Regions from separate parts of the Homo sapiens genome. Here region 1 is linked to region 2. Evidence: fine-mapped expression QTL. A gene starts in region 2. The other region holds a variant in brackets. All regions are shown on one strand. Distances are from middle to middle.

Evidence for each region. PIP is the estimated chance that this variant, and not a neighbour inherited with it, causes the effect.
Region 1: its variant is the best candidate, but not a certain one, in a credible set for the expression of CORO1A-AS1 in whole blood (TOPMed, PIP 0.85).

What each region holds. Positions count from the first base shown.
Region 1 is chr16:30,129,668-30,135,032 of GRCh38, reverse strand. No RefSeq gene overlaps it. Among named protein-coding and RNA genes, the nearest start is that of MAPK3, 9.1 kb to the right of the region's middle. The variant C/G (reference allele first, on the strand shown) is at 2,938.
Region 2 is chr16:30,182,214-30,187,578 of GRCh38, reverse strand. It overlaps CORO1A-AS1 (CORO1A antisense RNA 1), which reads left to right and starts at 2,791. Exons shown (of 2, transcript NR_186359.1): 1 at 2,791-3,075; 2 at 3,808-4,186. CORO1A (coronin 1A) reads right to left here and starts at 3,977. Exons shown (of 11, transcript NM_007074.4): 1 at 3,854-3,977; 2 at 2,172-2,370; 3 at 859-981; 4 at 634-763; 5 at 356-540; 6 at 78-197. The coding sequence starts at 2,369. RefSeq lists enhancers at 1-271, 1-450, 451-991, 1,015-1,164, 1,495-1,644 and 5 more and silencers at 2,075-2,174, 3,545-3,654, 3,685-4,144, 4,285-4,394.

The DNA of each region.
Region 1 (5,365 bases), 53 kb after region 2:
TTAACTTTGAGACTGTCTGAAGTAGTAGACAGGTGTTGGAGCAAGCAATAGACTAACCCAAAAGCCTGAAAGGAAAAGCTGAGGGATGTGGTTTAGAACTGTGTGCCCACCCAAATCTCATGTCGTATTGCAATCCCCAGTGTTGGAGGTAGGGCCTGGTGGGAGGTGATTGGATCATGGGGGTGGGGTTTCTCATGAATGGTTTAGCGCCATCCCTTTGGTGCTGTTCTCTTGACAGTGAGTGAGTACTCAAGAGATCTGGTTGTTTAAAAGTGTGTGAAGGCGGGTCGCAGTGGCTCACACCTGTAATCCCAGCACTTTGGGAGGCCGAGGTGGGTAGATCACTTGAGGCCAGGAGTTCGAGACCAGCCTGGGCAACATGGTGAAACGCCCGTCTCTACTAAAAATACAAAAATTAGGCCAGATGTGGTGGCTCACGCCTGTAATCCCAGCTATTTAGGAGGCCGAGGCAGGTGGATCACCTGAGGTCAGGAGTTCGAGACCAGCTTGACCAACATGGAGAAACCCCATCTCTACTAAAAATACAAAATTAGCCAGGCGAGGTGGCGCATGCCTGTAATCCCAGCTACTAGGGAGGCTGAGGCAGGAGAATTGCTTGAACCCAGGAGGCGGAGGTTGCAGTGAGCCGAGATGGCACCATTGCACTCCAGCCTAGGCAACGAGAGCGAAACTCCATCTAAAAAAAAAAAAAAAAAAATTGGCCAGGCACGGTGGCTCGCGCCTGTAATCCTAGCCCTTTGGGAGGCCGAGGCGGGCAGATCACCTGAGATCAAGAGTTCGATACCAGCCTGACCAACATGGAGAAACCCCGTCTCTACTAAAAATACAAAATTAGCCGGATGTGGTGGCGCATGCCTGTAATCCCAGCTACTTGGCAGCTGAGGTGGGAGAATCGCTTGAACCTGGGAGATGGAGGTTGCGGTGAGCCAAGATGGTGCCATTGCACTCTAGCCTGAGCAACGGGAGCAAAACTCTGTCTAAAAAAAAAAAAAAAAAAAAAAAAAGCCAGTGGTGGCGCATGCCTGTAGTCCCAACTACTCAGGAGGCTGAGGCAAAAGAATCACTTGAATCCAAGAGATGGAGGCTGCAGTGAGCTGAGGTAGTGCCACTGCACTCCAGCCTGGGTGACAAAGTGAGATTCCATCTCAAAATAAATGAATAAAAATAAAATAAGTAAAGTGTGTGGCGCCTCTTCCCTTGCTCTCTTGCTCCTGCTCCTGCCATGTGACATGCCTGTTCTCCCTTCACCTTCTGCCATGATTGTAAGTTTCCTGAGGCCTCCCCAGAAGCCAAGCAGATGCCAGCATCATGTTCCCTGTACAACCTGCAGAACCATGAGCCAATTAAACCTCTTGCCTTTATAAATTATCCAGGCTTAGGTATTTATAGCAATACAAGAATGGATTAATACACTGGGGGACATCAAAGCTCTAAGATGACAGTGCCGGAGCTCTGAGGATCTTTTCCCCAGCAAAACAAGCAAAGCTGGTGAAAACCATTTAAAAATAAATAAACACTTAAAGTTTCTGGAATTATCCTAATGTCATATAACAGATGAATAAACATTTAATTTTATTTTTTATTGAGATGGAGTCTTGCTCTGTTGCCCAGGCTGGAGTGCAGTGGTGCAATCTTGGCTCACTTTCTTATTCAAGAAAATCTACTAAAACTCAGTAAGAACAGGGAGAATCTGTGGCATTGAATTTTATTACTTTTATTATTATTATTTTGTAGAGATGGGGTTTCACTATGTTGCACAAGCTGGTCTCAAATTCCTGGGCTCAAGCTATCCTGCCACCTCGGCCTCCCAAAGTGCTGGGATTATAAGCATTGTTATCGGTGAAAGGTTATCCAAGTTACCGGTGACAAATCTGTACGGGTCTGCAGCAACCTCAATTCTTGCCTCCACAGAAGAAAGAACCACAGGGCATAAGGCAGAAAAAGAGACCAAGGGAAGTTTCAGAGCAGGAGTGGAAGTTTATTTTAAATGGCTTTAGAATGGGAAAGAAAGGTAAGTACATTTGGAAGAGACTCAAGTGGGCACCAAGGTCAAGCGTGGTGTTCAACCTTGATCCTAGGACTTTATAGGCTGGCTCCTTTCCCATGATTCTTCCCTTAGGATGGGCTGCCTGCATGCACAGTGGCCTCCTTACCCTGGGAAGGTGAGCATGCACAGTGTGTGTAGGAAGTTGTATGCATGCCTATCTGAGGTTTTCTTCCCTTTTCCGGTGGTCTGACCCCGGAAGGTCATGCTCCATCATTTTGTCTCTTTCTTTTTTGTTTGTTTGTTTTTTTTTTGAGACAGTTTCACTCTTGTTTCCCAGGCTGGAGTGTAGTGGCCTGATCTCAGCTCACTGCAACCTCCACCTCCTGGGTTCAAGCAATTCTCCTCCTTCAGTCTCCTGAGTAGGTGGGATATCAGGCACCCAACACCACGCTTGGCTAATTTTGTATTTTTAGTAGAGATGGGGGTTTCACCACATTGGCCAGACTGGTCTTGAACTCCTGACCTCAGGTGATCCGCTCGCCTCAGTCTCCCAAATTGCTGGGATTACAGGTGTGAGCCACCGTGCCCAGACTATTTTGTCTCTTAATGCACATGTCCAGGAAATTGCTTCTCCCTGGTGTCTGCATTCAATTAACACTCTAACATAACAGCTGTGGACCATCAGGAGCTTGTCTCTCTCTCTGGCGCTGGCTGCCAAATTATTTAGAGAGGCAATGTGATCATTGTTGAACCATCACTTGACATTCCTGGTGGGTGGGGAAGAGCCCTCTCCAGCCCTGCTCATGCCTGTTTAACTACCTGTAACATTATGAGCCACTGTGCCAGGCCATCTGTGGCATTTAAGCCAGGAGGACCAACTATCTCCTGACTGCCCTCCCCCCACAGTTCAGCTGGAAGGAAACTGCTCT[C/G]TGAGTAGATGTGGCCAAGAAGACAAGCTCCCTCTCCCCTCAGCTGCCAATCAAGGCTTACCATATCTCACCAGGAGGAGCATGCTGCCACCAGTTTTCATCCCCTCCAACTCCAAATTGAAGAGGCTACATTTCTGGTGAACGTGGTAAAGAAGTAGGGCACTCTTCTCCTCCACCCAGCACTCGCCCACACCATAGAATGAAGGCTGTACCATCAGTGACAGTCCAAGAATACTGGGACCATAATCACACTCCTCCCAGCTTGCTTGTGGAACAGAGATCCCATGCCAGGAGGGGCAAGCCACGAAAACCAGAGGCTACTGCTCCACCAGTGTCCAAAATAGGGTCTCAGAGGCTTTGCCCAGTGGGACAGACAGTTCATAAAAAAAGAGACCCCAAGGGCCAGGCATGGTGGCTCACACCTGTAATCCCAACCCTTGGGAGGCCGAGGCAGGTGGATCACCTGAGGTCAGGAGTTCGAGACCAGCCTGGCCAACATAGTGAAACTCCACTCTACCAAAAATACAAAAATTAGGCTGGGCACAGCGGTTCACACCTGTAATCCCAGCACTTTGGGAGGCCAAGGTGGATGGATCACCTGAGGTCAGGAGTTCGTGACCAGCCTGGCCAACATGGTGAAACCCTGCCTCTACTAAAAATAAAAAATTAGCCAGGTGTGGTGGCATGTGCCTGTAATCCTAGCTACTGAGGCAGGAGAATCGCTTGAACCAGGGAAGCAGAGTTTGCAGTGAGCCACGATCACGCCACTGCACTCTAGCCTGGGGGACAGAGTGAGACTCCATCTCAAAAAATTTAAAAAAAAAAATACAAATATTAGCTGGGCATGGTGGCGCACACCTGTAGTCCTGGCTACTCAGGAGGCTGAGGCAGGAGAATTGCTTGAACCCGGGAGGCAGAGGTTGCAGTGAGTTGAGATTGTGCCATTGCACTCAGCCTGGGCAACAAAAGTGAAACTCCATCTCAAAATAAATAAATTAGATAAATAAATAAATAAACAAACAAGACAAAAAGAGACTCTTGGCAGCAGCAAGAGAAAAACAACTCATCGCGTACAAGGAAACTCCAATGAGATTGACAGTTGATTTCTCATCAGAAACAACGGAAGCCAGCAGGTGGTGGGATGACACATTCAAAGTTGATTCTTGTCTCTGTGGTGGTTATATTCCCCAAAGTCACCACAAACAATGAATTAGAGAATACTGAACATTGCTTCTAGCGGAAATACATGGTGAAGTTCCTGCCAGCCTCTGATCACCACACTTTTGTCAACCAATCAGTCCACAGCTGTGTGTTACATGTGATTCTGTTTTGGGTTTTGTTTGTTTTTTGTAGGTCTTGCTCTATCGCTCAGGCTGAAGTGCAGTGGCACAATCACAGCTCACTGCAGCCTTGAACTCCTAGGCTCATGCCAGGCGCGGTGGCTCACGCCTGTAATACCAGCACTTTGGGAGGCCAAAGCAGGCGGATCATGAGGTCAGGAGACCGAGACCATCCTGGCTAACACGGTGAAACCCCGTCTCTACTACAAATACAAAACATTAGCCGGGCGTGGTGGCAGGCGTCTGTAATCCCAGCTACTCGGGAGACTGAGGCAGGAGAATAGCGTGAACCTGGGAGGTGGAGCTTGCAGTGAGCTGAGAGATCTTACCACTGCACTCCAGCCTGGGCGACAGAGCGAGATTCTGTCTCAAAAAAACAAAACAAAACAAAAATCCTAGGCTCAAGGAATTCTCCTGCCTCAGTCCTGTAGCTGGGACTACAGACGCGCATCACCACTGCGCCTGGCCCCCACATCTATCTTTTCAGACTGGTTTGGGACTACAGGCACACACCACCAGGGGTGGTGTATGTGTGCCTGTAGTCCTAGCTACTCAGGAGGCTGAGGTGGGAGGATCACTTAAACCCAAGAGTTCGAGGCTGCAGTGAGCTATGATCAGGCCACTGCACTCCAGCCTAGGTGACAGAACAAGATCCTGTCTCTAAAAAAGATAAAATAAAAAATAAGGCCAGGCGCGGTGGCTCGCGGTGGCTGGCTGTAATCCCAGCACTTTGGGAGGCTGAGGTGGGCGGATCACAAGGTCAGGAGTTCGAGATCGGCCTGGACAACATGGTGAAACCCCGTCTAGGAAACTAGTCTTCCCAGCTAATTTTGTATTTTTAGTAGAGACAGGGTTTCACCACATTGGTAAGACTGGTCTTGAACTCCTGACTTCAAGTAATCCACCCCTCTTTGGCCTCCCAAAGTGCTGGGATTATGGGTGTGAGCCACCATGCCCACCCCATAATTACTTTTGCACCAACAAAATATAAGAGGGCTTCAAAGGGAAGACACCAGCATAATGGCCTTCAAGATATTGTACGATCTAGCCGGGCGCAGTGGCTCACGCCTGTAATCCCAGCACTTTGG
Region 2 (5,365 bases):
GAGTGGCAGAGCAGGGACGAAACCTCCAGTCTTGGTTCCCAGCCTGGGGGCCCTCGGCTTCCTGCCCCAGCACTCACTGTGTCCCACAGCGCCACCTGCCGCTCACTCATGCGGCTGAAGCCCGTGGTCAGGATCTTCCCCTCCGACACGAACACTGCACGCACGGGCCGGGTCCCCTCGTGGGGACGGTCCTTCTCCTGCAAGGAAAGGGAGGTGGTAGGTCAGGCACCCGTACATACCCTACGGGGCCAGTCCCAGGTGGAGGCGAGGGAGGGCAGCATCCAAGGGCCTGGCTGATGGTGGATAAGAAGGATAAAGGCTGTAGGGTCAAAGGTCAGGGTAGATGGCGACTCACAGCTACGACAGTGCCTTTGCGGGGCTCGATGATGCGCACGCGCTTGTCACGGCAGGAGGTACAAATGAGGCCTCCATCTCGGCTCCAGTCCACACTGTAGATCGTGTCTGGGTGCACCTCTGGGCCCAGTGTCAGCATGGCCGCCCCAGTGCCCACGTCCCACACCATGATCACGTTGTCACAACCTGCACGTTCCCCACAGTGTCAGAAGCCATGAGCCTCCTGCCCTCATCCACTGCAGGCCACGAGCCACCCCCAAGCCCCTCCTCCCGCAGCACCTGCACTGAGCAGCACGTTCTGGGCTGTGGTGTGCCAGGCCACAATGCCCACACGCTTGGTGTGGCCCTCCAGGGTGACGACGGGCTCCCGCAGGGGCAGCATCAGGCCCCCATCTGGGATCTCCCACACCTGCAGAGGAGGGGCCAGTGAGTCTTCAGGACTCCAAATGTCAGATCCCATCCTAGAGCCCCTCTCCCAGCCCCTGGGTCCCCACCACCACTCACCATGACTGTGCAGTCCTCGGAGCCACTGGCAATGACGTTGTCATTGTGCGGGCACCAGGCGATGTCTAGCACAGGGGCTGTGTGGCCACAGACCGTGGGCGCATTCTTGTCCACACGTCCAGTCTAAAGGCACAGCAGGGCCTTGGAGGTGCTTTTGCCTCCCAAACCCAATCCAACCTCCCCACACCTCCTTCAGAGAGGCCCAGAGAGGAAAGCTGTGGTGTCCCTGGGAGCTGGACCAGGGCCTGGGGTGGGGACGGGGGCGGGTTGTTCTTCTCTTGTTCCAGTCCCAAAATGGCCTGGGCAAACCCCAGGAGGGCTGGCCACGCATGGCAGAGGTTGGGGGCCGTGCAAGACCCTGGCAGAGTTCCCGCCGGTCTCTGTCTCAGTCTGTCTCTGCCCTTAGGGTTGGCACCCCCACCCCAGCTTCCCCGAGTGAGGCTTCCATGGGCACAACTGGCCCTGGAGCCAGGACAGGTGTATGGGGGCTGGGGGGGTGGAGGCAGCTCCCCAGAGAGCGAGTGTGAGTGGTGGGGCTGCAGGGGTGGGTCCTCCCAAAAGGAGAGGGGCCAGGGAGCCTGTCCCAACTGGCCCCAGGCAGGAGCAGAGGTTTGGAAATGGCTTCTTCCGGGGACAGCTGCTTCAGCAGGGCTTCCTGTGTGACAGCCATGTGGGGCGCGGGCCCAGCTCTCACCCCGACAACCACTTCCTCTTCTCTTTGCTTCCATCAGCCCTTTTAAGGTAACAACTTGGGGCCCATCTCCCCTTCCTGTCTTACCCCCCAAAGAGCACAGGAGTGTGCTGGGGGTGCGGGGCAGCAGCCAGCCAGCGGAGGGGGCAGCAGGCTCCAGGGGAGGGCAGGGCTGCGGGTGGGGGAGAGCACCTCTTGCATCATCCCTGCCTGCGAGCTGGGGGACAGAGTTGCTAGGTCCTCAGACAGGCCCAGAGCCAGAGTCCCTCCCAACCCTGAGAACGCTGCCAGGGCCCCCAGACCCCATCCCAACCCCCTCTGTGTTTCCATGGGGAGAAAGCCCCAGGCTGAGGCTCAGGAGGGCTGATCATGGGTCTGCAGGACTGTCTGTAGTCCTGGTCACTGGTGTGACCCATCTTGTGTTGGCTCCTTCTGAGCGTCAGTTTCCACACAGCCACAGCACAGAGGAGCTGGAGGAAGTGTAAGGCTCATGGGGCCCAGCTCAGTTTTCCAGATGGCAACACAGGCCCTGGAAGGCCTGGTGACCGTCACCTAATCAGGACCTGCACAGAGCCATGGGTCCGGTGGAGGAGCTGCTCCCCCCAGGGCCCCAGGGGCTCACCTTGCCCAGGGGCAGCACCAGGAAGGCCCCTCCCCCGCTGGCCTCACAGATCAGGGCCACAAACTTAGGGTTGACAGCACAGAAGCCACTGTCCCAGGTGGTCTGTGAGACGCGCACATCTTCATAGCACTGGTCGGCCTTGGCCGGCTGTCCAAACACGTGGCGGAACTTGCTGGAGCGGACCACCTGCCGGCTCATTCTGGGGGCACACAGCATAAGAGCATTTCTCCCTTCAGGTCAACTCTGATCTTCCAGTGGTCCCCACCTCCCCCAGGACACCCCTCAGTCTGGCTTTTAAGGTCCCAGCATCATCTCCAGGGGCTCCCTATTCTTCCCTCTGTGGCTGATGCCTGCTTGCCTTCCCCAGCCTCTCCTTCCCTCTAACCTGCAAGCCCCCTTCTCCCTGGCCCCAGGCCACTCTGAGCCACCCTCTCAATCTGTACCCTCAGCCTCTGCAACAGAGCCTGGCGTGGTGTTGCCCCACTGCATGTTTGTTGACTGACTGGCTGATGGATGCAGAGCCCGTCCTTCCTAATGGTTCAGACTCAGGCGTCATCAGCCCAGATGGCTCCGAGGGTGGGTTCTCTCTTAGTTACCGTGTCCAGAGCCCACCTCCCTCACACCCACACAGCGCTTCCTAAAGGCAGGGACAGGAGCTGGCCTCCCTCGCCTGCTGGCATGGGGCTGGACACAGGAGGAAGTGGCGTGGGGGCTGCCTGAGGGGAGTGAGGCGGCAGGATAGCTTCCCCAGCAGGTCTCTGGCTCAGGTCCAGGTATCTCCTCCTCCCCATACCTCTGCCTCTCGCCTCCGCTCAGAAAAGCAGGTGCCCTTAAGAGCCATCTCCACCCCCATGTAAACTGCACACAGGAAGGGAGAGGCCACTCCGACTGCTCTGAGGTCCAGGTAGGATGGTTTCCCCCAGTGTCTGGGTGGGGAGCAAGGAACTCCAGGGGCGACCTTGTGCCACCGCATCACCTTCCTGCTCAGGGAAGGGGCCTGTGCTGCCGCTTGGAGGGTGCCATGCCCAGAGCCTCTGCCCCTAGCCTCAGCCTCGCCTACTCACTGGGGGCTCCAGCACCCCCGGCCACCCCAGGACTCCCGAAGAGGCTGCTAGGTCGGCCTGCCCAAAGAGCGGTGAGGAGCGTATGTGAAGAGCCCCAGTCTTGAGGAGCAGCCTGTATCTGGAGAGAGGGGAGCCCCGGACCAGAGGTGGGGGACAGGAAGCCATCGCCCCACCCTGCCTCCTCCCCCACCACAGGTACCAGGCCCGGAAACCACGGAAAGGGGAACTTGGTCTTTTCTTGTTTTGCTCTCAACCCCTTCCTGTCTCCAAGCCCAGGGCAGCTGCCCCGCTCACCCCACCCTGCCCTCGTCCCCACCCTCCCCGAGACTCAATTCCGTGGGGAGTCGGGCCCTCGACACTGTGCTGACCCCCGGCCACCCACCTCCATCTTGGCCGCGGTGGTCCCTAGCCCTCGCCTCCGCAGAGCGCTCTGGGGCCCCGGCGGCCCCCACTCCAAGCAGCGTCCCCCCACGGGCTGCTGCGCCCGCTACCTGGCCCCGGCGCTGGCTGGGTCGCGGTGACAGCCGCGCGCCCCCGCAGCCCGCGGCTCCCACGCGCGCGCCGCCCCACAGGTGGCCCTCGCCCCGGCCCACCCGCGCCTCCCAGGCCCAGCCTCACCTGCTGCCGAGAGAGGACAGTGATCCCCCAAAAGCCGGAGGTGGAGGAGGAGGAGGAAGAGGAGGAAGGAGCTGGAGGAGCCGGGGACTCGCCCGCTGAAGATGCTCTTGTCAAGACAATGAATGAGAAGCAGCCGTGCGCCCGCCTCCGGGGTGGCCGCGCCCCTTGGGGCGGAGCTCTTCCAGGCCCGCCCTGCGCTCCCGGGCTCCCGCTGCGGCCGCCTCTCTCCCCGGCCCCTGCCCGTGCACCACGTTGGTCCCCAACCATAGCGCAGGCTGCCATCCCGGCTCCGGGAAGCGAATCTAAACTTCTTTTTAAAATGTCAAAACGCAAGAGCACCCCATTGCTTCTTTCCTCCCTGCGTCCGCCCCCAGCCTCCTCGCCAGCCTTTCCCTGGCAGGCACGAAAGCGCCCCAGGCCCGCCCGCCAGGCCTCGGTGCCCGCCCCGGCCCGGCTGCGCCGCCCCTTCCTCCCGGCCCCGCAGACGCGAGCGCAGGGGGCGCGGGGGGCGCGGGGGGCGCGAGGGGCGCGGGGGGCGCGGGCGAGGAGGAGCCCCGAGCGCGCTCCTGGACCCCCGGGACCTGGCTCTTGCCTGGCTCTGAGATCTAAGCATGGGTGGCCCCGGGAGTCGCTTCTCCTCCCTGGATCTCCTGGCTTCATCGGGAACACCCCTGCCCTCCTGCTGAAATAATCCGGCATCACGGGCACCTACTTCGTGCCAGGGGCTACAGGGTCGAGCAAGGCAGGCAAGCCAGGCAGGTTTCCGCCCCTGAAGAGCCCAGCCTGGGGGAAGGAGGAGGAGCCCACGGCCGCTCCAAGCCCTGGCTTTGGCGAAGGCTCGAGGGCAAGGAGGAATAGTTCCCACCCTTGGATTCAGAGAGGCTTCTGGAGGCAGCAACAGCGGGCAGGAAAGGCCTGCTCTAGAGTCAGACTATGTCATGAGTGCGACCGCAGCCTGTCACCTGCTGAGTGAGGTGTGGCCGCTACTTAGCCTTTCTCAGCCTCGGTTTCTCCCTCTGTAACAGTCATACCTGCCACGTAAGAGGTATGGGGATGATTACCTAAAATAACCCAAGGAAGTCAGTAAGGACCTCATCTAGAAAGTGGCGGGTGCTTAATAAACGTTAGCTCTCAGCCATGCGTAGTGACTCACGCCTGTAATCCCAGCACTTTGGGAGGCCAAGGCTGGCGGATCACCTGAGGTCAGGAGTTCGAGACCAGCCTGGCCAACATGGTAAAACCGCATCTCTACTAAAAATACAAAAATTAGCGTGGTGTAGTGATGCACCCCTGTAATCCCAGCTACTGAGGAGGCTAAGGCATGAGAATAGCTTGAACCCTGGAGGCAGAGGCTGCAGTGAGCCAAGATTGAGCCACTGTTATCACCCAGTCTTCTCTGGGTGAAAGAGCAAGACCGTCTCATTTTAAAAAAAGTTAGCTCTCATCATTCTTGTTTAAAAAGTATCTGGGCTGGGCCTGAAAGGATTAGGAAGAGCCAACAGGCAAGGCTAG